7 linked regions of the Homo sapiens genome follow. The protein of the gene in region 2 purifies or fractionates together with the protein of the main gene of each other region. This does not show direct contact. Each region holds a gene or a part of one and is shown on either strand. Other genes may lie near its edges.

Region 1 (3,500 bases), on a different chromosome or scaffold from region 2:
ATGCACTTGGGAGTCTGAGTGGGGGTATCCCTTGAGACCAGGAGTTTGGGGTTGCAGAGAGCTATGATGGTGCCACTGCACTCCAGCCTTGGTGACAGAGCAAGAGCTAATCTCTAAAAAAAAGAAAAGAAAAAAAAGAGTTGGGATATAGTGGCTCACTCCTGTAAACCCAGCACTTTGGGAGGCCAAGGCGAGCAGATCACTTGAAGTCAGGAGTTTGAGACCAGCCTGGCCAACATGATGAAACCCCATCTCTACTAAAAATACAAAAATTAGCTGGGCATGGTGGTGTGCGCCTGTAATTCCAGCTACTCAGGAGGCTGAGGCAGGAGAATCACTTGAACCCAGGAGGCAGAGGTTGCAGTGAGCTGAGATTGCATCACTGCACTCCATCCTGGACCACAGAGCAAGACTCTGTCTCAAGAACAACAACAACAAAAAAACAAAAGACAGAAAGAAATACTTTTCTGGATGAGTTCAGACATTATAGAGCGAGATGCTTCAGTTCAGGGATTGTGAGCCTTAAGAGGCCCAGAAGTCACTTGGGGGCTGTGTCAAGGAGATAATTTGCTACTTTCAGCCCCGACCTTTGTGTTCTGCTGAAATGCCTGGTGGTGTAGGAGCTTTAACATGTTCTAGAAATTTGGATGTTTAAAATTTACATACACATATATATAACTTTAAACAAACCATGTGGGTCATTATATCAGGCCATGTTGATAGGCAAAATTCAGCCTTTGGGTGGCCAAAGTCTCCTTTGGTTGAGAAAAGGAATCAGTAGGCAGAACCATCAACAGAAAATATGAGAAAGAATGCTCAAGTCTAAAGTGAACTTAAACAGTTCCACTGTAGTGTAAAACACCACTCAATTTGGTAAGTTGAAGGGATTTTATTTTTCAGACATTGCCTAACTTAGAAGAGAAAGATAAACCTATCTTGGAATAAAGGTTAGATGAAAACAAAGACTTAGGAACCATGGTAAGCTATAGCACTCACTCTCTAAAGCTTCTGATTCATACGCTCTATTGCTAGATTCGTCTCATCATGCTACGGATAGCTCAACATTACAGCCATGACCCACATGGGCGAGAGTTCGTTTTTGTGATTCTTTGTCCTTTATTTTAGCAAGAGAGTCCTGGAGATCACTGAGTCTAATGAACGAACCCCAGGGAATGAAAGTGAAGCATTAACCATTACTGAAATGACTGTAGGGGCTCTGCAAGGTTGTTGTGGGTGGTACTGACAGGGCTAAATAGGACTGACTCCGTTCCTCTTTGACATTCTGATTTAATGTTTCTGATTACAACAGCAAATCTTGATTTGGGGCTTGTATATCTTCAACACCTCTTTTACACTTGATGTTCTTCCTTTTTTAAAAAAAAAAAAGTCAAAGATGTTATCGTTGTGCTTATTTTTATTGGTTTCCTTCTATTTGTGGTCAATGACAGTAGTTTTCCATTTACCATTTTTCACAGTTTCCTTTAAATTAATGTAAGTAAAAACAATGGGTCCATTTAAAGGAAAGGAATGAAGCCAGTAGAAGTTAAGAGGAAGGTGGAAAGAGTATAACTTGTAAAGGTTGTAAAGGTTGTCTCTGAATAACTGAGCTTGGGAAACTTACCTAGGTTATAGGGCAGATGGGGTAGAGGGTGGAAGAAAAGGATGTCCAATGATAGGATAAGGTCATGTACCTTCTCAGAGGCAAACTAGGACAAGAATTCAGGCCTCCTGATGCTCAGCTCCCTGAACCCCAAACACTAGTCTTTGGGCCTGCCATATTGCTGACAGTTATGCTATTTTGTTCAACATTAAGTAGGCCTTAGACTAGTGGTTCTCACATTTGAGTGTATCACAATCACCTATGATCTTTGTTAAAACTCACATGGCTGGCCGGGCATGGTGGCTCACGCCTGTAATCCCAGCACTTTGGGAGGCCGAGGCGGGTGGATCGCCTGAGGTCAGGAGTTTGAGACCAGCCTGACCAACATGGTGAAACCCCGTTTCTACTAAAAATACAAAAAATTAGCTGGGCATGATAGCGGGCACCTGTAATCCCAGCTACTCGGGAGGCTGAGGCAGGAGAATTGCTTGAACCCGGAAAGCAGAGGTTGCGGTGAGCTGAGATCGCACCACTGCACTCCAGCCTGGGCAACAAGAACAAGACTCTGTCTCAAGAAAACAAACAAACAAAAACAAACAAACTTGCATGGCTGGGCCCCGCTCTCAGAATTTTTGATCTAGTAGGTCTGGGGTGCAGCATAATAATGTGCATTTCTAGCAAGTTTGCAGGTGACGTTGATGCTTCTGGTCCAAGGACCTCACTTGGAAAGCCCCCGCTTTAGACTGACAGCACTTCTCAGTGGAGGCCCGGGGCACCGTTGGCCACCGGGTGGACAGTTCTCCATTGCGTGGTGAACCGTTCAGCATCCCAGAACCCCTGCCCGCTCACTGCCTATAGAAGTCCCTAGTCAATGCGATAACCAAAACTATCTCCACACATTTCCAGCACCCCATGTTAAGAATCTTAGTACATTTTTCACCTCCCTACGGTTAATATTTTCACTTAAGATGCTCATAATCTGATGCCTACCTCATTACTTCTCGTTATTTCTAAACTCTTCTTTTTTTTTTTGAGACGAAGTCTTGCTCTGTCACCCAGGTGGGAGTGCAGTGGCGTGATCTCAGCTCATTGCAATCTCCGCCTCACAGGTTCGGGCGATTCTCCTGCCTCAGCCTCCTGAGTAGCTGGGACTACAGGCGCCTGCCACCACACCCGGCTAATTTTTTGTATTTTTGGCAGAGACAGGGAGTCACCATGTTGGCAAGGCACATCTCAAATTCCTGACCTCAAGTGACCCTCCTGCCTCAGCCTCCCAAAGTGCTGGGATTACAGGTGTGAGTCACCGTGCCCAGCTCCCTTTTTTATTTTATTTTTTTGAGACAGTGTTTTGCTCTGTTGCTGAGGCTAGAGTGCAGTGGTGAGATCATGGCTCACTGCAGCCTCCACCACCCAGGTTCAATCGATTCTCCCACCTCAGCCTCCCAAGTAGCTGGGACTACAGGCCCGCACCGCCATACCTGGCTAATTTTTGTTTTGTTTTGTTTTTGGTAGAGACAGAGTTTCGTATGTTGCCAAGGCTAGTCTCAAACTCCTAGGGTTAAGCGATCCTCCTGCCTCGGCCTCCCAAAGTGCTGGGATTACAGGTGTGGGTCACTGCACTCAACCTGCTTCATTCTTATACTCCCTGCTTCCAAGAGTCCATGTGAACTGACATTTCAATCTTTCCTTCACTTTCTATGACAAAGACAATCATTGTTTTCATTTTCCAAATATGCAATTCTAATAATGAAGGTGCTTCTTCGAAGTATGCCTTCCTCTTCCTTGTCTAACTTCCCCTCCAACCCTACTAGGAGACATAACCCCCTTCTGAAAAAATCAGTTTTATGCCCTATCTGTCTGAATGCTTCCGGGCTATGAATTTTGAGATAATAGGTAAATG
Region 2 (3,500 bases):
TTCACCATGTTGGCCAGGCTGGTCTCGAACTCCGGAACTTGTGATCCACCCGCCTCAGCCTCCCAAAGTGCTGGGATTACAGGTGTGAACCACAGTGCTCAGTCTTTTTTTTTTTTTTTTTTTTTTGACAGGGAGTCTTGCTCTGTTGCCCAGGCTAAAGTGCAGAGGTGCGATCTCAGCTCACTGCAACTTCCGTCTCCCGGGTTCAAGTGATTCTCCTGCCTCAGCCTCCCAAGTAGCTGGGATTACAGGCGCCTGCCATCACGCCTGGCTAGTTTTTGTATTTTTAGTAGAGACGGGGTTTCACCATGTTGGCCACGCTAGTCTCCAACTGCTGACCCCAACTGATCCACCTACCTCAGCCTCCCAAAGTGCTGGGATTGCAGGTGTGAGCTGCTGTGCCTGCCAAGCCTGATTTTAATTTTAGCCTTTTTGGTAGGCTGTGGATTGGTATCTCAGTGTGGTTTTATTTTGTATTTCTCTATGATGAGTAATGTTAAACATGGTTATTGGACATATGGATATCCTCGTTTACTAAGTTAAAGTTAACCTTTAACTACTTTCCATGTCAATATATCCAAGAAGGCCGGGCGCTGTGGCTCACACATGTAATCCCAGCACTTTGGGAGGCTGAAGTGGGTGGATCACTTAAGGTTAAGAGTTCGAGAGCAGTCTGGCCAACATGGCGAAACCCCATCTCTACTAAAAATAACAAAAATTAGCCAGGTGTGGTAGCAGGTGCCTGCAATCCCAGCTACTCAGGAGGCTGAGGCACAAGAATTGCTTGAACTTGGGAGGTGGAGGTTGCAGTGAGCTGACATCGCACCACTGCACTCCAGCCTGGGTGATAGAGTGAGACTCCATCTCAAAAAAAAAAAAGTATATATATGAATATCATTTTAAATATTCAGCTATATGGTTGTAATAATTTACAGTCCACTAGATATATAAGTTGTTCATAATTTCTCACTATTATAAACTATACTCTGATGCAATGTCCTTGTAGTTAAAAGTTGAAACAGAGTCTCAAACTCCACAAAAGTTGATCATTTTTGAAATGTAATTACCATTATCACCACCACCACCACTACCCAGAATTAGTCACCAACAGTAAATCCAACAGATTCTCACCTTCAGAAATGCTGGAGTCATGGAACATGGTTTCAAAAGCTTGGTGTGTTTCAGCAAAAGAGGGCCTATCGGCAGGGCTCCACTTCCAGCCTATGTAACAGAAGAAAAAATATTAAAAACTCCTTGCAGAAATTCAATATCCAGTGGTGTATCTAATAATGAGTTCTATGCATCATGATGCACACTTATTAAAGTACAGTTACAGCATGTTCACAATGATAGCAACATAGCCACTTCTCAGCTCTAGACTCAGAGGTATAATGAACCCACTTTCTAAATTCCTTTTTTCTTTTTCTTTGAGACAGGGTCTTGCTTTGTCACCCAGGCTGGAGTGCAGCTGGCATGATCTCAACTCACTGCAGCCTTGACCTCCTGGGTTCAAACAATCCTCCTGCCTCAGCTCCCCAAGTAGCTGGGACTATGGGTGTGCAACACCACGCCCAGCTAATTTTTTTTTTTTTTTTGAGACGGAATCTAACTCTGTCACCCAGGCTGGAGTGCAGTGGCGCGATCTCGGTTCACTGCAACCTCTGCCTCCTGGGTTCAAGTGATTCTCCAGCCTCAGCCTCACGATTTGCTGGGGCTACAGGCGCACGCCACCACGTCCGGCTAATTTTTGTATTTTTAGTAGACAGGGGTTTCGCCATGTTGGCCATGCTGGTCTCGAACCCCTGACCTCAGGTGATCCACCCGCCTCAGCCTCCCAAAGCGCTGGGATTACAGGCTTGAGCCACTGCACCCAGCCAAAGTGAGCACACACAGCGATCTCAAGCTACTGTATTTTTTATGTAGATGGGATTTTGCCACATTGCTCAGGTTGCTTTTGAACTCCTGAGCTCAAGCAATCTGCTCACTTCGGCCTCCCAAACTGCTAGAATTACAGGTGTGAGCCACTGCACCTGGCCATTAACCCACTTTCTAAGGCTGGTGCTTCGATTTAGCCTCAGCTCCTATTCCCTCTAATAAAAGGATGAGGAGAAACAAGGAGATGTTTTAGAAAATGGCAAGTTTTCTTCCACTTGAAAATAAAAGAAGTAAAACCTGTCTTCAAACTCAGCCTAACCATATAATCAACTGTATACATTCAGAAATATAAAAGGATATCAAAAAGGAGGATCTCAGAGTTCATTTTTGACAAAGTGCAACAGAGAACGTCAATGTTCAATGAGGAAACAACACAGACTTATGTTCAAACACAACTGCAATTAGGACCAGGCCTGGTGGCCCACATCTGTAATCCCAGCATTTTGGGAGACTGAGTCGGGCAGATCACTTGAGACCAGGAGTTCGAGACCAGCCTGGCCAACATGGTGAAACCTTGTCTCTACTAAAAGTACAGGCCGGGTGCTGTGGCTCAAGCCTGTAATCCCAGCACTTTGGGAGGCCGAGGCAGGCGGATCACGAGGTCAGGAGATGGAGACCATCCTGGCTAACACGGTGAAACCCCGTCTCTACTAAAAAATGCAAAAAAAATTAGCCGGGCGTGGTGGCGGCCGGCGCCTATAGTCCCAGCTACTCAGGAGGCTGAGGCAGGAGAATGGCATCAACCCGAGAGGTGGAGCTTGCAGTGAGCCGAGATCGCGCCACTGCACTCCAGCCTGGGCGACAGAGCGAGACTCCGTCTCAAAAAATAAATAAATAAATAAATAAAAATACAAAAATTAGGCCGGGCGTGGTGGCTCATGCCTGTAATCCCAGCACTTTGGGAGGCTAAGGCGGGCGCATCACTTGAGGTTAGGAGTTCAAGACCAGCCTGGCCAACATGCCAAAACCCCATCTCTACCAAAAATACAAAAATTAGCCAGGCGTGGTGGCAGGTGCCTGTAATCCCAGCAACTTGGGAGGCTGAGGCAGGAGAATCGCTTGAACCTGGGGGACGGAGGTTGCAAAGATTGTGCCACTGCACTCCAGCATGGGCAACATAGTGAGAGTCCGTCTCAAAAAAAAAAAAATTAGCTGGGCATGGTGTGCGTGCCTGTGGTTCCAGCTACTGAGGGGCTGAGGCATGAGAATCACTTGAACCCATGAGGTAGAGGTTTCAGTGAGCCGAAATCACGTCACTGAGCCGAAATCACGTCACTGCACTCCAGCCTGGGCAACAAAGCAAGAGTGTTTGAAAAACAACAACACAAATAAACAAACAAACAAAACCCTGCAATTTAATCCACTATTCACTTTCCTACTTTTTCATCTGCAAGCAATCGGATGCTTCTGTTTATCTACACAGAGGTTATTTTTATGCATTCTTCATAGTCTTTAGCAATCATTTTTATCTAGTTGAAAACGGCCCTCCCCACCTTAATCTCTAAACTCAATTTCTTATCTTATTAAATATGCAAATGTCTCTGAGAAACTGGGTCAATATTTGG
Region 3 (4,271 bases), on a different chromosome or scaffold from region 2:
GGGAGGAAAGCAAGGGTAGGAGGATGAGGTGGGGCTATGGGTAATCCAGGAAGGAAGTGAGCAGAGTACATTCACGTGGCAGCGCTGGGCATGGAATACAGTGTGGGTTTGACAGTGATGTTAAGATAGAAAGACTGGACTTCATGGCTCATTGTGTGGGAGTAAGAGAGAAAGGAGGTCTGCGTGACTCCCAGTTTCTGGGTTGGGCAACTGGGTTGTTAAAGAGAATACAGAGGAGAATTAAGTGAGCAGCTTCAGAGATGACAATGAGTTGGGTTTGACATTCAGAGTGCGAAATGCCTGAGGTCAGTCAGGCAGAATGTCTAAGTGGAAGTTTGTTAATCCCAAATCTGAGATCTGAGCCAGAGAGAGTTCTGAGTGTCATTTGCAGAGGAGGGGGCTGAGGACTGACTGTTGATGAGAGTGTCCCAGAAGAAGAGAAAGGGACAAACCTAGAATGGTGGGAAATACTGTAGGGATATGGAGCAAGGAAGAGGAGTCCAAAAAGAAAACACCAGCAACAAAGAAAAACAGCTTAAAGAATCAGGCCGGGCGCGGTGGCTCACACCTGTAATCCTAGCACTTTGGGAGGCCGGGGCGGGTGGATCACGAGGTTAGCAGATCAAGACCATCCTGGCTAACACAGTGAAACCCCGTCTCTACTAAAAATACAAAAAATTAGCTGGGCGTGGTGGCGGGCGCCTGTAGTCCCAGCTACTCAGGAGCCTGAGGCAGGAGAATGGTGTGAACCCGGCAGGCGGAGCTTGCAGTGAGGGAGATGGTGTCACTGCACTCCAGCCTGGGCAACAGAGCGAGACTCCGTCTCAAAAAAAAAAAAAAAAGGAGCTAGGGCTTGATTGGGTATAGAGAGGACACTGGTGGTGAGGGAGACATGGAGGTTATAGGAGAGATGGGAGTAAGTTTAGAAGTAAGACCAGTGGCAGAGACAGCCTGGAACCCAGGTCTCCCAACTCCCAGTCTAGCACTTATTTCTATACCATGGTGCCTTCCTCTTCCAGGTGAGGAACCAAGGAGGGGAGAGGGATTATGGGGAGCTGGGATCCCCTAGCTTGGGAGGTTTGGAGTAAGGGCTTCCCTTCAAACTACAACTGCATAGATGGTGGAGGCATCAGCAGGGTCCGCTGTGGACAGCCGGCGGGGCCTGCTGAGGGCTAGATGGTCCAGATCCGCATAGAGCAGGCTCTGGAGGAGGAAGGGGAGGAAGACAAGATGGTCTCCACAGTCTTCCTTGGGGTTCAGGCCTTTTTTTTTTTGGTCCATTTTCCTCAGAGATTCTGGCTATCCCCTTCCCATCCCCATGCCCTTACCGGTTCCTGGTCCAGGTCCCCTGGAATCTTGGGCTCTTCCTCCTTTACTGGCCTCTGGGGCTCGGTTTTCACAAGTGGAGCTATGTGGGGGGGACAGAGCTGAAGGATGGAGAGAAGGTGACCAACGTGTCTGCTCCCAGCAAGGGCTCAGACTCAGGAATTGAGGGGTGGGGAGTGGGCATGTAGGAGAAAGAAAATGGGGTGGAATTAGTCTCACCAAATCTAGGGAGTGGTCGAATCGGTTGCGGGGGCAGGCGCCTGTAAGGGACATATGAGTCTTTGAGAACCACCAGTCTTGTCTCACTGGTTCTCCTGGGACTCGCCACGCCAAGGACAGCCCAGCAACTTGAAGGCTCAGACCGGAAACAACTTAGACTCTACCCCACCGACAGTCCAGCCCAGGCTCTAACTCTGCTGCACTTCCAGCTCATCTGCTCTGGTGGGGCTCTACTCACCAGTCAGCGGCCTCGCTCCCACCTTTGACCTCTCCCATTCTTCGCCAAGCCAGGACCAGAGCTCTAGGTCTAGCTCTTTCTTTTGCGAAGGTTCTGGTCCTGCCCCTTCCACCTCTGGTCACTCCCCATTTAACGAGGCCGGGTCCCTCCTGCTCACCTGTGCAGCCACCAGACCAGGCCCAAAGCTCCCAGTCCGAGCACCAACCCAGCGCCCAGCAGCGGGATCAGGAGCTGGGGATACACGGACCCTGGGGGAAAGGCGTGGCGGGGAGGGATGCTGAGGTCAGGGGTTTGACGAGGGACAGCCAGCAGTCCCGCTCAAGAACCCCCAGCCAAGGCCCTCTTCCCTCCTCCGGGTATGTGTCGGAGTTAAGTACCCTTGTGCGCACAGGCCTGCACCTACCATGGGTAGGCCCGGGGGCCTTGCAATAGGTCCTGTCCCCCAGCACGTGAAGCACTGTACGGCTCTCGTCCTCGTGGCGGCCCTTGCAGAAAAAAGTGCCCGAGTCCCCCGCGCTCAAGAGGAGCTCCAGCCGCCGGATACCAGAGTCCAGGGAGCGTAGGCGGCCGACGAAAGGCTGGAGGGGAGGCACGGTGGGGGTCCCGCTCGAAGAGGCCCACAGGATCGGTCGGCGTCCTTTGGACAGGCCCTTGCAGGCCGGGAAGCTGGGTGCCCAGACCCAGCGGATGGGATGAGAGACTCCTCCGCAGGAGAGATTCACCCGGTCCCCAGGGCGGCCGTCCAGAGAAGCTAGGAGAGGCCGGAGGCTGTGGTTAGGGCACGTCCACAGGGCAAGACGACCCTCCATCCCGTCTCCTCTTTCTCTTCTCTGTTCTGCACTCCAGCCATCCTGGATCTTCCCACACACAACCCACCCTACTAGGCGGCCCTTATCTTGCTTCAGCCCCTCTGCGTCTATCACAACTCTCCCAGGGATCGCTTACCCCCAGGGTTCCCTTGGGCCCTCGAGAGCAGCAGCGGTAGCAGCTGCAGAAACACAGCCATGGTTAGGATGTGGTGAGGAGAAGCTGCGAGCGAATCAGCGGCGTGGGGCCGGTTGGGGGGGGACCGGAGGGAAGTTAGGCGTGGGGAGAACGGAGGGGCTGGGGGGCTCCGATAAGAGAGGGGGCGGGGCCACCAGCTGCCCAGATCCCTTTGGGAATCCTCGCAGGCAAACTCGGAGTCTTCAAATGGTTCTCACTTAAAATGTGTGCTCGGGCCATTTACACAAATGCTTTGGCCTGCTTAACTTTTCAGGTGCGCCTGTAATCCCAGCTACTTAGGAGGCTGAGGAGGGAGGATCGCTTGAGCTCAGGAGGTCGAGGTTGCAGTGAACTGTGATCAGGCCATTGCACTCCAGCCTGGGCGACAGAGCCAGCCAGACCCTGTCTCAAAAACAACAACAAAAAAAACTCCTGTTTTGTAGGGGATTGTGATAACGAAATAAAGTAATACATGTAAACTGCTTAGAATACATAGGATCACTATGTAAGTGCTTGCCATTATTATTACTATTTCTATTCTTTTTTTTTTTTTTTTTTTTGAGTCAGAGTCTTGCTCTGTGGCCAGGCTGGAGTGCAATCTCGACTCACTGCAGCCTCCGGCTCCTGGATTCAAGTGAGTCTCCTGTCTCAGCCTCCTGAGTAGCTGGAACTACAGGTGCATGCCACCACACCTGACTAATTTTTGTATTTTCAGTAGAGATGGGGTTTCACCATGTTGGCCAGGATGGTCTCGATCTCTTGACCTTGTGATCCACCCACCTCGGCCTCCCAAAGTGCTGAGATTACAGGTGTGAGCCACCACACCCGGCCTACTATTTCTATTCTTATTTTAGCTTCTACCTCACCTCTCTGTGCCCATGCTGTTCCTCCTGGCTTGGTACCCTGCCCAAGTTGGCAGGTTTTGACTGGGGAGGTGCTTTGGAGCAGGTGCACACAGCCACACCTAGGACAATTGCTGCTGCTGGACTGGAGCAACAAGGCCACACCAAGCGCAAGTGGAGCACGGGTGACATCCTGAGAACCTTCATGGGAGCCTGAGGCAGCCCTACTTAGCAGACCTGTGGTGGCTCTCCTGGATGAGTAGCCCCAGCCCCTGCCTCTGCTGCTGTGGCATCACAGAAGCCATCAGTGAGTCACTTATTGCTGAGCAGGCATTGGAAAGACCGAGTGGGGGCTGAATGGAGATTAATTTGACCCATTCCTCCCCCAATTTCCACCAGCATGCCCCTATCAATGCCCAGCAGGGACCCAGGGACCCAAATTCAGCAATTAATTTGGGCCACATCCTTTTGTCCATTTTCCAGGAACCAGCAGAAGCTGCCACCATGGACACTGTAAATCACAGAGGCCTTTGATGATGCTCATTCAGAGGACTGAGCAGCAGGACTCTTAGCTGGGGACCAGGAAGGGCATCTTGGCCTGAAACCAAGAACCACAATGGCATTGGCCACTAGTGGCACCTGCCTTCCCCCATCCCTCTCTC
Region 4 (4,161 bases), on a different chromosome or scaffold from region 2:
TTATGAGTGGGTCAGGGAGGGGAGAAGACAGGAGAGGAGCCAGGTCAGAGTCCCAGGCCACCTAGGCACGCTTGCAGGATACAAAGCCAGTGGCCTGGGGAGGTGAGTGCAGACCCTGATGGCACTGGGCCTGCCTAATAATAATGATACCGAAATAGTGACCCAGGGCACCTTCTCTGTGCCACTCTCTGTGCTAAGGGCATGTAATCATCACAGGTTCCTACGACGTGGGTACTATTATTGACGTCCCCATTGTGCAGGCGGGAAAGTTTATGCACCACGTGGTTCAGCGACTTGTGGAAGGTCCCAACCAGGAAGTCACACGGTGAGGGTTGAACTCAGACCCTCTCGGCACCCACCCCCTGCACACTCAATCTGTGACATTGTCTTGTAAGCAATAACTGTAATGAAATATATTATGGGCTATGTAGCTAAACATATAAGACAATGTACAATGAATGCATAGGCATTATAATGGATAACATATTATGTACAAGATACTATAGGCACTGTGTTACTGGGAGATTATAATAATAATTAGTGAATCGTGTATTACCATCATCGTCAGGTATTCGTAATCTCAATGATAATAAGTAACACCCATGCCACCACTGTGTGCCAGCCACTATTCTAAGTGCTTTACTTGTGTCCATTGGGTCATTTAAGCCCTCATGATGCCCTTGTGTAGTGGGAACACCTAGAAGAGCGCAGTGATTCCTGCACATGCGGGAGGCAGGCTTGGGGAGCAGGGGTGCCCTCGCCACCCAGCCTTCCGCATGTGAGGCCCTCCGCACTGTACACGGTTCAGAACCCACCCAGTCGCATGATGTCATATATCACATGGGTATTATGTTTACATTTGTTACACACATTCTTATATTGTATAATTATATATTTTACATTTATTATGCATTTCTTAGTTTCTTATATACAATGTTTCTACATGTGTGTAAATTACTTAGGTTTATAATTATCTGTTACTTTTTTTTTTTTTTTTTTTGAGATGGAGTCTCGCTCTGTTGCCCAGGCTGGACTGCAGTGGCGCGATCTCGGCTCACTGCAAGCTCCGCCTCCCGGGTTCACGCCATTCTCCTGCCTCAGCCACCCGAGTAGCTGGGACTACAGGCGCCCGCCACCACGCCCAGCTAATTTTTTGTGTGTTTAGTAGAGACGGGGTTTCACCGTGTTAGCCAGGATGGTGTGGATCTCCTGACCTCGTGATCCGCCCGCCTCGGCCTCCCAAAGTGCTGGGATTATAGGCGTGAGCCACCGTGCCCGGCCATCTGTTACATATTTTATATCTACTTATGAATTTATCAAATAACTTTGGTCATTTTATAAATTATAATCTTTGTTATATTCATTTGTTGTATTGTTTTATGCAGTTATGCAATGTTTATTGTATAAACGGTCATTTATAATACTTTTATATATTTGTCATATTTCTAAACTTGATACATGTCACCATATATCAGTTTATGCGTTTGTATGGTATGTTTCTATGTCTGGTACATAAGCGATTACACTTTAAACACGTCATCAACTGTAATGTACAGTGCCTAGCATTCTGCGTGAGCCTTCCTAATGCTGGGCTTGCACTACCTGTATTGTAACGTTTAGATTTTTTGTTTGGTTTTGTTTTGTTTGAGATGGGATCTCACTCTGTGGCCCAGGCTGGAGTGCAGTGGCACCATCTCAGCTGTGCAGTGGAACCATCTCAGCTCACTGCAACCTCTGCCTCCCAGGTTCAAGCGAGTCCCCTGTCTCTGCTCCCTAGTAGCTGGGATTACAGGCATGCGCCCATGCCCAGTTGATTTTTGTATTTTTAGTAGAGACGGGGTTTCGCTGTGTTGCCCAGGCTGGTCTCGAACTCCTGAGCTCAAGCGATCCTCCCACCTCGGCCTCCCAAAGTGCTGGGATTACAGGTGTGAGCCACCGCACCTGGCCCACGTTTAGAATCTTTATAGGCAGTGACGAACGCCCCTACGAAGTGTGCGCCCAATATGTACTAAGTGCTTTTCACCCACATCATTTAATCCTTAGACCAGTTTGGTCATTCATGTCCCCATTTCACCAAGGGAGAAGCCGAGGTCAGAGGGGCCAGGTAGACCGCCTGGACCACACGCGGATGGCCGGGACGCGGATTCGGGACGGGAAGCGGATTCGGGCCCGGACGCGGATTCGAGCCCGGCGTTCACACCCTCACCACGCCACAGCCTCCGTGTTCCTCTTCGCCCTGCTGCAGCCCCTTCCTTCCTGTGGTCACAGGGGACAGTCAGGTCGCCAGAAGCGGCGGGGCCGGGGCTGTCCAGCGCAGCAGGGCCGCCCGCCCTCCCCTGCGGCGCCCGCCCCACCTGTCCCGCCCGCAGCCAGGTTGTTCCGGGAGCGCGACGAGGACACCGGGAACGAGGGTGTGCACGGTCCGTCCCGGCCTGGCCGTGGACGTCGCGCTCCGGGGCCGGGGGGCAGAGAGTGAAGACGGAGACAGCAAGAGCGACAGAGAAGTGCTGGGGAGAGAAACACGGAGAGACCCCCCGAGGCGGGGAGACACCGGGGACACCGAGACAGAAAGGCAGAGCCCGCCGTGCGCGGAGGACAGGCGTACGCAGGGCCAGGGCCGGGGCGCGCCGCTCGCGGACCCCGTGTGCCACTCACGCTGAACTCGCCGGCGAGGACTGCCCCCTCCCGGCCGCCCCGCGCTTCCAGCCGCTCCAGGAAGCTCCGCGCCGAGTCCAGGCTGCGGCTCATGGCGCCGCGGGCCAGCAAGGTCCAGCCCGGCCGCCGCGCGCGCGGCGAGTGTGGACGCCGCGGGAGGCGGAGGCCGGTGACTGAGTCCCCGCCCTTGCCTCGGCAGCCAATGGAAGCGCGCAGCGGCGGGCAGGGCGCCCCAGCCACCGTGTTCTGAGCCCGCGTAGCCCCACCCCGGGCGCTCGGGCCGCTGTGGCCGGAGCCCTAGGTCCTCGCGGGCTGCCCTGAGCAGAGTCCAGCGCCGGCGCTTCCCCTTTTTTTCGGCTGCCGCGCCCACTGGTGGGGGGGTGGCACGGTCCCAGGTTCGCTCCCTGCCGCTTGGGACCCGCCCTCAGATCGGGATCCGCGCCCAGGGGCCGACCTCCGGGTGCCGGCTCTGGGTGGACGGCCGAGCGGTCTCGCCGGGCCCTCCCGCCCGTCCCCTGGGAGCCAGGCCGCGCGGAGTCCGAGCTGGGGCGGGCAGCAGCCTTGGGTGGAGACGGTCGCCGAGATCAGGCTGCCCCTCGTGCCAGAGGACCCCGGGTCGGGGGCGTCCCGCGCTGTGCGCTCCAGCCGGGCCCAAGGGAGGCCGGGGAGGGGCAGCCACGCCGTGGGAAAGGCCAAGTGGCAGCGGGATCTTCTCTGTGTATTTCCCGAGGAATTTGTGGTTCCTTTTTCCCGGATGCGCTGGGGCACCAGGGTCAGTCCTGTGTGAGCATCTCGACCTGCACAAGCCTGCTGGGAAACAGAACTGAGGCACTGGAAGTGGGTTCTGGGGAACGAAGAGCTTCTCTTTTTTGCCTGCCCTGACACTCCCATCTTCAGAAAGTGTGCAGAGGTCAGAGGAGAGCCGCCGTTCCAGCTTCCGGGATCACCGAGGGGAGGCTGGAGAGAATGGACTGGCACCTGGGTCTCTTCAAGGACAGGCCTAGGTTAGCCCCCTTCTCGCCGAGGTCGGAAGAATTAAGAGGGGTGTCACTGGAAGGGGCGTCAGTGGACACCAGTTTGAGGTCGTTGAGGGGTTGAAAGGTAGCATTGGGGCCTGGATGTGTGCCTGAGTCTCTGAAGGGTCAACAGGGGCATGATGTCAGGTGGTCAATTTAATTCACTAGGGGCTATCAGAGTATTTAAGGGCACACTTTCTTAAAGGTCCCGGTAGGAAGTGGTTTTGGCTTTGCTATCGCTGCCCCAGCTGCTTAACTCAGCTGTGGCAGCATGAAAGCAGACAATATAGTGTGGCTGTGTCCCAAAGAAACCATTTATGGACAAAGAAATCAGAATTTCATGTAATGTTCATGTGTCATGAATTATTCTAGTGTGTGTGTGTGGCCTACAGGCTGTCGTTTGCTGACCTTGGCTGAAGTGATGGAGCGATCAAAGTGGCTCTGTGGGGATCAGCAGCTAGGGCTGTTTGATTTATCGTGGGGTCCGCAG
Region 5 (3,500 bases), about 19 Mb from region 2:
AGACATGAGGGACTCAGCAAAGAACAAGGCCCTGCTACCCCAGATTTCCCCAGCATGAGGCAAATCTAAGGCATTCCCCCGTGCCATTTGCTTAACTCCTCTGGGAACTTGCAGGACTGGAGTTCCCCAGCAGCACCTCTCAGTTAACATTTTCTCACGCTTCTCTCCTGCACAGATGGGGAAAGCCAGCACACAGGACAGTAAACCTCCTGGGACTTCAAGCTATGAAATTGTGATCTAGGCTGCTGGGCTGAATTCTCCCTCTGGAAACTGAGTTACAACCACCAATACTGGCAGGTTCCCTGGATCCAGATCTTCTCTGCCCAACTCTTACTGGGAGATTGCAAACTGCCACATCTCAGCCTGTAAGCAAAGCAGGAAACCTTCTGCTGGGCATAGCTTGTGCCTAAATGGACAAATGGATGCATACCCTTCCTGAAATGACTCCCTTCTGAATGAATGACAAAGCAGGTTACCTAGTATAGTTTTCCCAAACTTCTTCCCATCATAGCACATGTAGAAAATAATATTTTTATGGCACACTGGGATAAACAAGCAAGATTGCTCACTTCTGGAAGCTGCATATGACTAGAGGCCTCTTGTGACTGGAGGTAACAACCCTGCCCAGTAACTGTGGGAGAAGGGGATCAATATTTTGCACACCTGTAATAGGCCATGGCACACCAGCCAAGATGCTCTGCTCACAGTCAGTATGTGTGAAGATCCCTGGTGCGTGGCCTTCACCACGCATCTTGAGCAAATTAGGAAAATGTACCCTTCGCTTGAGGCAGATGCAGCCCTTCCCCCGAGTGCATGGCTTGGAGAGCAGAATGTGGGCTGCATATAAGCACACTCATCCCTTTGTCTGGGAATCTTTGTGCAGGGCATAACAGGCTTAGTAAGTCCAAACACAGATGACAGTGCTGTGTGGGTCTCTGTCAGAGTTGTGGCTCTCAGCCATGTAGACACACTCTCCAAATGGAGTGTTGGAAAATGTTCTTTCTGCAGGGTCTAGAGACTGCTGGGACACTTTTCTTGGAGTGCTACTTCAGAAGCCTTATAGGATTTTCTTTCTGGCCAAGATTTCCTTCTGTATCACTCCAAGCAGCCTCAGCAGAAGAAGCAGCCATGCCCAGTATTCCCACTCTCCAAAAGGAACTGACCAGCTTATATTTCTCACACTTCTGGGGAACTGGGTATAATCCAACCATCAAAATAGAAGACCTTGCAAGAAGCAGAGTCATTCTCCAGAAGGAACTTGGGAGATGATGGTGCAGATGATGAAACTGGGTTCATCCCAGTTCCAAAGACTCAGAGAACTAGAGTTTAAGCTGAGGCAGAGTGCCGCCACCCTGGCATGCCCCACAAACAGATCACCAGCCAGCTTACACAGGCATTAACTCTCCTCAATGAGGAAGAATCATTCACAACTGAGCAAGACATTCATATGATCATTTAAGGAAGTGTTTCCCTTATGTGTTAGCAAGTATAATCGGCTAACTCCTAAATCCCAATGAATAGTCCTAGGCTGGACAGCAATGGGCTGCAATTAGGCAGATAAAGACATCAGTCCCAGTAAATGAATCCATAGACTCATCTAGCACCAACTACCATTAGCACTATGTTAGGAGCTGCAAGGCCCCAAAGTAGAAGATGTGCATAATGTCTGCTCTTGTGTAGCTCAGGAGACAATTCCAGCACAGACACTACAGTTAACGCTGAACTGCAGCTGCAAGTAATAGCATGAACAGTCAGAAAAATACCTTATGAGGGGGCAGGGCTGAAGCTGGGCCTTGAAGGATGGATGAAATTTGGATAGAGAATGAGGAAGACAGAGGGCCTCCAAGTGAGAGAAGCATGAAAAATGAGCAGGGGCCTGGATCAGTGGGGTGTATTCAGAGCACCTCTCCAGATGCACCATGCATGCTCACAGTCCCTTGCCTATGTGTGGCAGAGTGTCCCAGCCAGATGTGTGCCCTCACCCCATGTCCATTTACATGTCCTTCAATGCCCACCTCAAAAGGTACCTCTTCTGTAAAGCTTTCCCTGGTATCAGGAATCAAAATTAATCAGGGATCTTTTCACACTGCTGTTTTTTCCTCTTTGGTCCTTCTATCACTAAAACTCATCTCATTCAGCCTTACAGCATAACTAATTATTTGTTTTCCTCACTACATTGTACATGTGGGAATTACAGATAAACGGAAGCCGGCTGGGGTGGTGGCTCACGCCTGTAATCCCAACACTTTGGGAGGCCAAGGCAGGCGGATCACCTGAGGTCAGGAGTTCGAGATTAGTCTGGCCAACATGGTGAAACCCCATCTCTACTAAAAATACGAAATTAGCCAGGTGTGGTGGCACACATCTGTAGTCCCAGCTACTCTGGAGGCTGAGACAGGAGAATCGCTTGAACCCAGGAAGTGGAGGTTGCAGTGAGCTGAGATCACACCACTGCACTCCAGCCTGGGAGAGACAGAGTGAGACTCCATCTCGAAAAAAAAAAAAAGATAGAAGCCAATAAGCATGGTGCAATCAAATTCTGGCAAGCATTAAATATCAGGATGCAGCTGGGCACGGTGGCTCACGCCTGTAATCCCAGCACTTTGGGAGGCCAAGGTGGGCGGATCACTTGAGGTCAGGAATTTGAGAGGATCCTGGCCAGCATGGCAAAACCCCATCTGTACTTAAAATACAAAAAAATTAGCTGGGCGTGGTGGTGCACACCTGTAATCCCAGCTACTTGGGAGGCTGAGGTGGGAGAATTGCTTGAACCTGGGAGGTGGAGGTTGCAGTGAGCTGAGATCCTGCCACTGCACTCCAGGCTGGGCAACAGAGTGAGACCATGTCTCAAAAAATAAAAATAAAATAAAATAATATCAGGATGCATACATCAGAGGCTGTTCCTAGTGTAAAGGCACTTTGGAGGGAGAAGACTTTCAGAGTTAGGCAGACCAACTAAGAGGTCAGCTGAAGCACCTAACCAGTTGTAAGGAGGTGAAAGACAGCACCCCAAGAAGAGACGTGCAGGAAGGAGGAAAGAGGCTTGGTCATAAAGGATGGAGGAATTCCAAAGTGACACTGAACAGGCTGCGTTTATCCTAAAATAAAACCACTCCTCACTCTGTGGATGCGTTGAAGACTCATTCCCAAACATCTTTATTCTCTAACTTGCCCTCTTCCTCTTCCTAATATGCTCACTCAAGTAAAATTACTAGTGTCCTAATGCCCCTATGCATATTGTCAAAAATAAAAATCAGAAGCAGGTTAGATCTGTTAGGTCTTCCAGAAGAGCAAACCTGGGATGAAGCCAGAGCCCAGGAATTCTGAAGGTAGCCTTTGGACTCAGGACACCCTACTCTTGTCTCTCCTCTCAGTTTCTCTGCTATGAATCTCCTGATTCATGAACACGTTATCTGTTCACCCTTCTCTCTAGGTCTTAGTTCTTAGATTTTCCTTCTGTAAAATGCATGTGATCTTATTTTCCCCTCCACAACTTTCCA
Region 6 (4,081 bases), on a different chromosome or scaffold from region 2:
GGCGCTTGTAGTCCCAGCTACTCCAGAGGCTGAATTGGCTGGGTGGCTTGAGCCCAGGAGGTGGAGGTTGCAGTATGCTGAGATTGCACCACTGCACTACAGCCTGGATGACAGAGCCAGACCCTGTCTCAAAAAAAAAAAAAAGTATTTACTCCAATATACCTAAAATATTGTCTCACTATGTCATCAATATAAAAAGTTACTGAGAAATTTTATTTATTCAATTTTTGTACTAACTTGAAATCTAGCATGTATTTTATACTTATCTCATTTCAGACCCTAAATTCTCATTGGAAATATTTGATATATACTTAGATTTCATAAAATGACGGATGAAAAATACAGACTCACATACCCAAGTTGTTCAAAACATACTTGAACGTTTTCCAATAGCTGATCAAGTAGCAGTTTCTCAAGTTAATTTAATTACAATTAAATAAAATTAAAAATTTAGTTCCTCAGTCATGCTAGATGCATTTTGAGTGCTCACCCTGCATATGGTTACTGGATTGGACAGTACAGGCCTAAAGTGTGACAAGGAAACTCTGTTGGCACTTCCACCATCAGCATTTCGTGTCTATTTACTATTGAGGTTTTCTGTGTATTAACATCATTAACTTGCCAGATATTAACTATGAAAGTAGTCCTACTGGTCACATAACTACAGTAGCTTACTTTCTCTAGGTCAATGCCAACATCTGTGAAAAAGGAATCATCTAATGACTACACAGAATTGCTATGTAGTACCTCTCACATGGAATGCAGTCAAAAATGTTTATGTGATAAATATATCTTCATCTCCATTACTCAAGGACTAATTCACTTTGTTTGTGGACTACTTAAACTCTTTGCTTCTATTTTCCTAAGGTTCAACCATTCGAGTTAACTACACAGTGTCCAACGACAAAAGATAAAGCAATAAGAAAACCTACTTTCAATTGCATATTTATTAGCAGCATTATGGTATAACAGTTAAGAGCTTAAGCTCTGGAGTCAGACTGTCTGGATTCAAATCCTGGTTTTATCTTTTACTAGATGCATGATTTTGGGTAAATATTTGGCCTCTCTGTGTCGCAGTTCCCTCTTCTGTAAAATAGTGACACTACATATTCTCTTAGGGTTCTTTGAGGATTACAGGAGAAGATACACATAGAGCATTCGTACACAGTACTTGGCACATAGTAGATGCTCAATAAAATTAGTTTATTTTTTGAGGCAGGGTCTTGCTGTGTTCCCCACACTGGAGTGCAGTGGCATGATCACGGCTCACTGCATCACTGCAGCCTTGACTTCCTGGGCTCAAGCAATCCTCCCACCTCAGCCTCTTGAGAAGCTGGGACTACAGGTCCACAACACCCGCTCAGCTAGTTGGTTTTTGTTTTTTTAATTTTTTGTTTTTGTGGGTACATAGTAGGTGTATATATTTATGGGACCGGCTAGTTTTTCAATTTTTTGTAGAGACGGAGTCTTGCTCTGTTGCCCAGACTGGTCTTGAACTCCCAGGCTCAAATGATCCTCCTGCCTCAGCCTCCCAAAGAGCTGGGATTGAAGGCATGAGCCACCCCAGCCAAGATGAGCTTTTTAAACAGAGATGCTGGAGAAAATGAAATTATGGCTAAGGTTAAAAAAAAAAATAGCTGAGATCCTTACACAACATCAAAAAGTAAAAAAGTAGGATTTCTCAAGATTTCCCACATTATCTTAGATACCAAGAAAAAAAAAATCGACTGTAGAGGTAGTAATTTGAAGTCCTCAAAAGAAAAATCATGCATGTGGTTATATTCTTTTAAAAGGGGGATAAATAAGAAACTTCATCTACTGACAGTATACAATTATGCAGTACGGCACAGGTGCAGCCAAGCAAAAAGAAAAACATGAAGCAAAATAGGAAGGCACTGCCTTACCTGCTTCTCCGTTTTCGAGGCGGTTTCTCCACTGTGCCAGTCAGTCTGCAGACCAAACAAATAAGACGGTAACTAAAAGTAACATACAAGAAAACATCTCCCGGCGCTACCGTGCCAGTCAAGAACTAAATAGACCACCCTCTGGGACCACAGGCTCGCCAAGCCCAGATCTGACCTTACAAACGCCTCATGCCCTGTTTCCCCTATTTACCAAGACCTAGCATTCCTGGGACTCACCGTTCCCCCAATTCCCCCTGAGCTCAAACCTTCCTGGTCCCTCACCCCATCCTCGACCCCTGCTCGTCACAGCCCAGCTCCCCAAAATCACCCACCTCCACCTACTCATTGTCTGCCTCGTCACCCCCGCAAGCCCCCCTAGCCTCCCCTTTCCTGTGCCCACCCGTTCCCGACCGTGCACTGCCCCCTCCACGCCCCGCCTCTCCGGGCCCGGCGACCCCCGCATTCCACGGCCCCTCCGGGGGCGCGCCCGCCTTGCCCCTCCCGGCCCCGCGCCGCCAGCCTCACCCCTCGGCGCCCCTTCCCTCACACGCCCCTCTCACCTGGCCTCGAGGAGGCGATCGCGCCCAGCCCGCGCCGCCGCCTGCAGGCGCCCCCAAGGTCCCCCCAGCCTGCACCCCCCGCCCCTCCGGTCTCTGCGCCCCGAATGCTCCACCGCCCCGAGCCGCTGCCCCTGGGCCCGCTCCCTGGCCCCCACCCCATCCCCAACCCCGGCCTCCACCCAGCCCCCGCACCTGGGGGCCAGGCGACTCCGCGGCTGCTGGGGCTGCCGGGCTCCTCTGACCATCCGGCTCCTGCTCCGCCGCGGGAGCTGCTCCGGCGGCCGCAGGGCTCGCTCGGGAAGCTGAGGCGGCGGAGGCTGGAGTAGGCGGAGAGGCGGGAGGAGGGCCTCGCGCCTCTGCCAGGCTTGCCGCGGGGCCCGCCTCCTCCGCGCCTCTCCTCGGCTCCCATTGGCTAGAGCAGTAGTGTGGACGGAAATCTGTCAGTCGATTGGACGCTCGGCCCGTCACATCCCGCGCTGCCCACCCAGAGGTTTGGTTGAGACTGCAGGTGGCGGCGGAGGTGCCTTAGAGATTGCTAGCAGGGCCGGAGGAGACCCTAGCGCCACCATGCGTCTAAAAGTAGGAACTGCACCCCCGGCTCCAGACACCTGCCCCAGGTTCTCCTGGCTCTGCGTCCTGCATACCACACACCTGCTGGCGCCCCTCCACCTCTGCACCACGCCAGGACCGAAAACAAGCCCTGAAATCTCCCAATTTCTTCTAGCAGGTGAGACAGTGAGGCAACTCTCACAAACGTGTTTCCTTTTAAGCCACCTCGAATGCGATCCTTGTCCCTACATCTTGCTGAAATTGTCTCACAGCTCACAGCTACCCCTCAAAAAGGACCCAGCCAGAAAACTCTAAGAATCCACCAAAATAAAGCATGGTTTGGATGCTCAATCCTCTGCAGAAAAGCTCACTAGCTTGGGTGCAGGCTTTTAAGAAAGTAAGATTTTTTTTTAATTACCATGAAAGAAAAATCAGCACTACAAACAGAACCAATGCCATACTAAAAGCAACGTGTTCCATTTTGAAAGGCCTGGACAAATTTGATCCCTGAATGGAAGCTGACCATCCTGATTGTGTGACCATTGCAAGTTCTACACCAATTAATCAATTTTAAAATAAATTGTACTGTATTTTTTGACAAACAGGCATGCAAAACTGCCTTTCATAAGCATAGTTACCCTTCTTCTGCTTTAACAAAGCCATCCTTGAAAATAAGACTCAGCTCATTAACGTATTATAAAATTCTTGAAGGTGGGAAGGCCTCTCTAAATCTCTACTCCTGTGTGAACTTGTTTGGTATATTCTCAGCATCTGTTCAGAGTTGGGAGGAGGCATAAAACTTTCTCTTAAGTCACTTCCATTTTATTAGAACATCTTTTATGCCTCAATAATATGACAGCGTCGAGTAGTACATGTCAACATTGGGGTGGGGAAAATCTCTCATTGATCTCCATAAGCGGCAAAAATTAGGATACTAGTTTTTCACAAAACCAAATGTATTTGGTGTAAAGAGTTGTCTTTTCTTCTGAGATGGTCCTACCTACATCTTTAATGGTAAAATGACTTTCCATTTATGAAGTAATACTGACGGTAAATTGTAGTAGGAAT
Region 7 (3,500 bases), about 86 Mb from region 2:
GTCCCCATGACCAATGCAGCAGCTGAGTCCTAGGATGCCTCCTCTGGGCTGTTCCATCCTGTTGAACAGAGTAGGGTAAAAGTTTTACGATACTCCCGGGAAAATCTGATGAACTGGAATGTGTACTTTTAACAGAGCCTAAAATTACTTACAGGCCCAGAGGGAATGGCTTGCCTAACTAACATGCATTTTCCACATGCTCCATAGTGTTGCAGTTAGGAAGGAAGCTGTGGGGAAACTTCCATTTTGGTGCAAATCTCAGCATCCCCCAAATAACCTGCAGGACTGCCTGGGGAGGCTGCCATCCCCAACCTCCTGGCTGCTCTCGGGGGACCCCCACACAGCCTCCTCCTGCTGAGCTGGGAAAAGGCACCGGCACGGTCACCAAGCAGCAGTTGGGAGGCACACTGTGTAACCACACAAGGAAAAGGTGGAAGGTAACTTTCAACACACTCGCTGTTATTCCTTCTGTCCCTTTCCAATTCAGACTGGGAATTTCTCCAGCACCAAGCACCAGAATCTCCCTAGCTAGAGACAGAGGCACTGCACCAGCCAAGTTGTTATGAACTTTAATTGGCCTTCCCATAAGCATAAAACATTGTTATGTTACAGAAATCACGAAGTTCTTTCCTACCTTTACAAGCACCAAAGAAAAAACAAATCAAAAAACCCCCAAACTCCAAGGAACAGAGAAATTCCAGCAACCTTTCGAAGATAAGACAAGACCGAGGGCAAATTACAAAAGGAAATATCTCCCGAGAAGTGATATTTAAGCAGTGACCACTGCGGCTGGACTCCAGGGGCCAGAACGGCAGGGTGTGGAATGCAACCTGCCTGTGAGCACACACCTTCGCCCAGGGCAGGCCACCAGCCAGCCAACTAGCAGGCCCGACGTCAGGGCAGGTGGCACCTGGCCAGAGCTGCATAAGGGAGCCACTGAAGGACACTGGGGCAGGGCAGCAGGCCATGAGCCATCTTTTCCCCTCCTCCCACTTAAACATTTCTGGGCGTGCTGCGTGTACAAAGTGGTGACAAGTTCTAGGAGGATCTGCATTCCAAAGGGCAAACAGAAAAGTGGCTCTATTAGGCCTGACTTGTTGACTTAAGAGACTTAGTCTTTTTTTCATTTCTTATCTTAAAAAGTTTTTAAACCAGGATCATTCAGGGCCAACTAGGAGGCCTTCCCTGCAGCAGTGGTTCTGTTATCCTGCCGAATACACTCCCACTCTGTGCATGACATTAATTCCCTGCTTCGACCATTCAGCAGCCTATCCTTCCCAAAGGAAACAGAAGAAAAGGTACCCCTTCTAACACTGTAAGGCATCTCAAGTCCAATCCTATTACTATGAAAAGGAGGATTTCTAAATATCAGGTCTTGCCTCCCTCCTTGCAATTGCCCTGAGTTTTTTTGTTTGTTTTGAGACAGGCTCTCGCTCTGTTGCCCAGGCTGGAGTGAAGTGGCATGGTCATGGCTCACTGCAGCTTCAACCTCCCAGGCTCAAGCAATCCTCCCACCTCAGCCTCTCGAGTAGCTGGGACCACAGGCACACACCACCATGCCCAGCTAATTTTTATATTTAAAAAATTTTGTGCATACATAGTAGGTGTATATATTTATGGGGTACATGAGATGTTTTGATACAGGCATGCAATGTGAAATAAGTGTATCATGGAGAATGGGGTATCCATGCCCTCTAGCATTTATCCTTTGAGTTACAAACAGTCCAATTACACTCTTTATTTTAAAATATATAATTGTTTTGACTACAGTCACCCTATTGTGTTATCAAATAAGTCTTATTCATTCTTTCTAAATTTTTTGTACCCATTAACCATCCCCACCTCCCTCCCATCCCCTACTCCCCACCCACTACTACCCTTCCCAGGCTCTGCTAACCATCCTTCTACTCTCTGTGTCCAAGAATTCAGTTGTTTTGACTTTTTGATCCCACAAATAAGTGAGAACATTTGTCTTTCTGTGTCTGGCTTATTTCACTTAACATAATGATCTCCAATTCCATCCACGTGGTTGCAAATAACAGGATCTCATTGTTTTTATGGCTGAATAGTACTCCACTGTGTATATACACATTTCCCTTATCTATTCAGCTGTTGATGGACACTTAGGCTGCTTCCAAATCTTAGCTATTGTAAACAGTGCTGCAACAAACATTGGTGCAGGTATCTCTTTGATATACTGATTTCCACTCTTCTGGGTATATACCCAGCAGTGGGATTGCTGGATCATATAGTAGCTCAATTTTTAGTTTTCTGAGGAACCTCGAAACTGTTCTCCATAGTGGTTGTACTAATTTACATTCCCCTCAACAGTGTAGGAGGGTTCCCTTTTCCCCACAATCCTCACCAGCATTTGTTATTACCTGTCTTTTGGATATAGGCCTTTTTAACTGGGGTAAGGTGATATCCATTATAGTTTTGATTTGCATTTCTCTGATGACCAATCATGTTGAACACCTTTTCATATGCCTGTTTGCCACTGCAGTGGCATGATCTCGGCTCACTGCCTCCTGGGTTCAAGCAATTCTCCTGCCTTAGCCTCCCTAGTAGCTGGGACTACAGGCGTGCACCACCACACCTGGTTAATTTTTGCATTTTTAGTAGAGATGGGGTTTTGCCATGTTGGCCAGGTTGGTCTTGAACTCCTGAACTCAGGTAATCCACCTGCCTCGGCCTCCCAAATTGTTGGGATTACAGGCGTGAGCCACCATGCCCAGCCCATTTGTATGTCTTCTTTTGAGAAATACTCATTTCTCAAAAGAGCAAATCTTTTGCCCATTTTAAAAATCAGATTATTAGAGTTTTTCCTATAGAGTTGTTTGAGCTCCTTATATTAATTTTCATATTTTTTGTAGAGACAGGGTTGTGCCATGTTGCCCAAGCTGGTCTTGAACTCTGAAGCTCAGGCAATCTGCCCACCTTAGCCTCCCAAAGTGCTGGGATTACAGCTGTGAGCCACTGTGCTGGGTCTGAGTCTGACATTCTACTCTCCTCCAGATAATAATTATCATGAGCACTTCCCTAGCACCTCCTCTGTGCCTGCACTGTTCTGAGCACTTTGCATATATTAAATCATGTACACCTCACAAGCTCCATCTTTCTAGATGAAGAAGGTGAGGCCCAGGAAGGTCAAGTCGCTTGCCCATGGTTGAAAAGTTGCCCAATGTGGAGCCGGCATTTGTGCCTGGCTACTGGGTCCCCAGCCAGATGCTGACTAGCATGTGCCGGAGCCTCCAGGCAGCACACAGCTGTCATTTACATTCCACACAGAGTCCTGTATTTTCCTCCCTAAGTTTTGCAGTATAGAAATGACAGTTTATGACATTTCCTCATGGACCCCCCCGCCAAAAAAAAAAACCAGTGAGTAGAATAAAATATGTTGGTTTACGTGCATAAGATTAGAAGCTGGGAGCCGGGTCAGGGCTGCTGTGTGACTGAGGGGCTGGACTGGATCTATGTCCCCGATGCCTGCCTTTTCCCTC

Evidence for each region.
Region 1: the proteins of ABL2 (region 2) and CASS4 purify together in Homo sapiens (pull-down; one study listed by IntAct). This does not show direct contact.
Region 3: the proteins of ABL2 (region 2) and MPIG6B purify together in Homo sapiens (pull-down; one study listed by IntAct). This does not show direct contact.
Region 4: the proteins of ABL2 (region 2) and PTPN18 purify together in Homo sapiens (pull-down; one study listed by IntAct). This does not show direct contact.
Region 5: the proteins of ABL2 (region 2) and CD84 purify together in Homo sapiens (pull-down; one study listed by IntAct). This does not show direct contact.
Region 6: the proteins of ABL2 (region 2) and SCAI purify together in Homo sapiens (affinity purification with mass spectrometry, with the first as the bait; one large-scale study listed by BioGRID). This does not show direct contact.
Region 7: the proteins of ABL2 (region 2) and BCAR3 purify together in Homo sapiens (affinity purification with mass spectrometry, with the first as the bait; one large-scale study listed by BioGRID). This does not show direct contact.

Annotation. Positions count from the first base shown.
Region 1 is NC_000020.11:56,453,760-56,457,259, forward strand, and holds part of CASS4 (cas scaffolding protein family member 4), read left to right. Parts: intron 1-3,500. UniProt on the Homo sapiens protein: Docking protein that plays a role in tyrosine kinase-based signaling related to cell adhesion and cell spreading. Regulates PTK2/FAK1 activity, focal adhesion integrity, and cell spreading.
Region 2 is NC_000001.11:179,111,178-179,114,677, forward strand, and holds part of ABL2 (tyrosine-protein kinase ABL2), read right to left. Parts: intron 1,222-3,500; coding exon 1,132-1,221; intron 1-1,131. UniProt on the Homo sapiens protein: Non-receptor tyrosine-protein kinase that plays an ABL1-overlapping role in key processes linked to cell growth and survival such as cytoskeleton remodeling in response to extracellular stimuli, cell motility and adhesion and receptor endocytosis.
Region 3 is NC_000006.12:31,721,902-31,726,172, reverse strand, and holds the start of MPIG6B (megakaryocyte and platelet inhibitory receptor G6b isoform G6b-B precursor), read right to left. Parts: upstream 2,801-4,271; 5' UTR 2,790-2,800; coding exon 2,729-2,789; intron 2,535-2,728; coding exon 2,187-2,534; intron 2,032-2,186; coding exon 1,941-2,031; intron 1,587-1,940; coding exon 1,546-1,586; intron 1,428-1,545; coding exon of another isoform or gene 1,409-1,427; coding exon 1,329-1,408; coding exon of another isoform or gene 1,300-1,328; exon of another isoform or gene 1,204-1,299; coding exon 1,099-1,203; 3' UTR 1-1,098. UniProt on the Homo sapiens protein: Inhibitory receptor that acts as a critical regulator of hematopoietic lineage differentiation, megakaryocyte function and platelet production. Inhibits platelet aggregation and activation by agonists such as ADP and collagen-related peptide.
Region 4 is NC_000002.12:130,354,695-130,358,855, reverse strand, and holds the start of PTPN18 (tyrosine-protein phosphatase non-receptor type 18), read right to left. Parts: upstream 2,801-4,161; 5' UTR 2,749-2,800; coding exon 2,656-2,748; intron 1-2,655. UniProt on the Homo sapiens protein: Differentially dephosphorylate autophosphorylated tyrosine kinases which are known to be overexpressed in tumor tissues.
Region 5 is NC_000001.11:160,544,997-160,548,496, reverse strand, and holds part of CD84 (SLAM family member 5 isoform 2 precursor), read left to right. Parts: intron 1-175; coding exon 176-241; 3' UTR 242-3,500. UniProt on the Homo sapiens protein: Self-ligand receptor of the signaling lymphocytic activation molecule (SLAM) family.
Region 6 is NC_000009.12:125,140,729-125,144,809, forward strand, and holds the start of SCAI (protein SCAI), read right to left. Parts: upstream 2,801-4,081; 5' UTR 2,710-2,800; coding exon 2,657-2,709; intron 1,950-2,656; coding exon 1,905-1,949; intron 1-1,904. UniProt on the Homo sapiens protein: Tumor suppressor which functions to suppress MRTFA-induced SRF transcriptional activity. May function in the RHOA-DIAPH1 signal transduction pathway and regulate cell migration through transcriptional regulation of ITGB1.
Region 7 is NC_000001.11:93,584,338-93,587,837, forward strand, and holds part of BCAR3 (breast cancer anti-estrogen resistance protein 3), read right to left. Parts: intron 826-3,500; exon of another isoform or gene 635-825; intron 1-634. UniProt on the Homo sapiens protein: Acts as an adapter protein downstream of several growth factor receptors to promote cell proliferation, migration, and redistribution of actin fibers.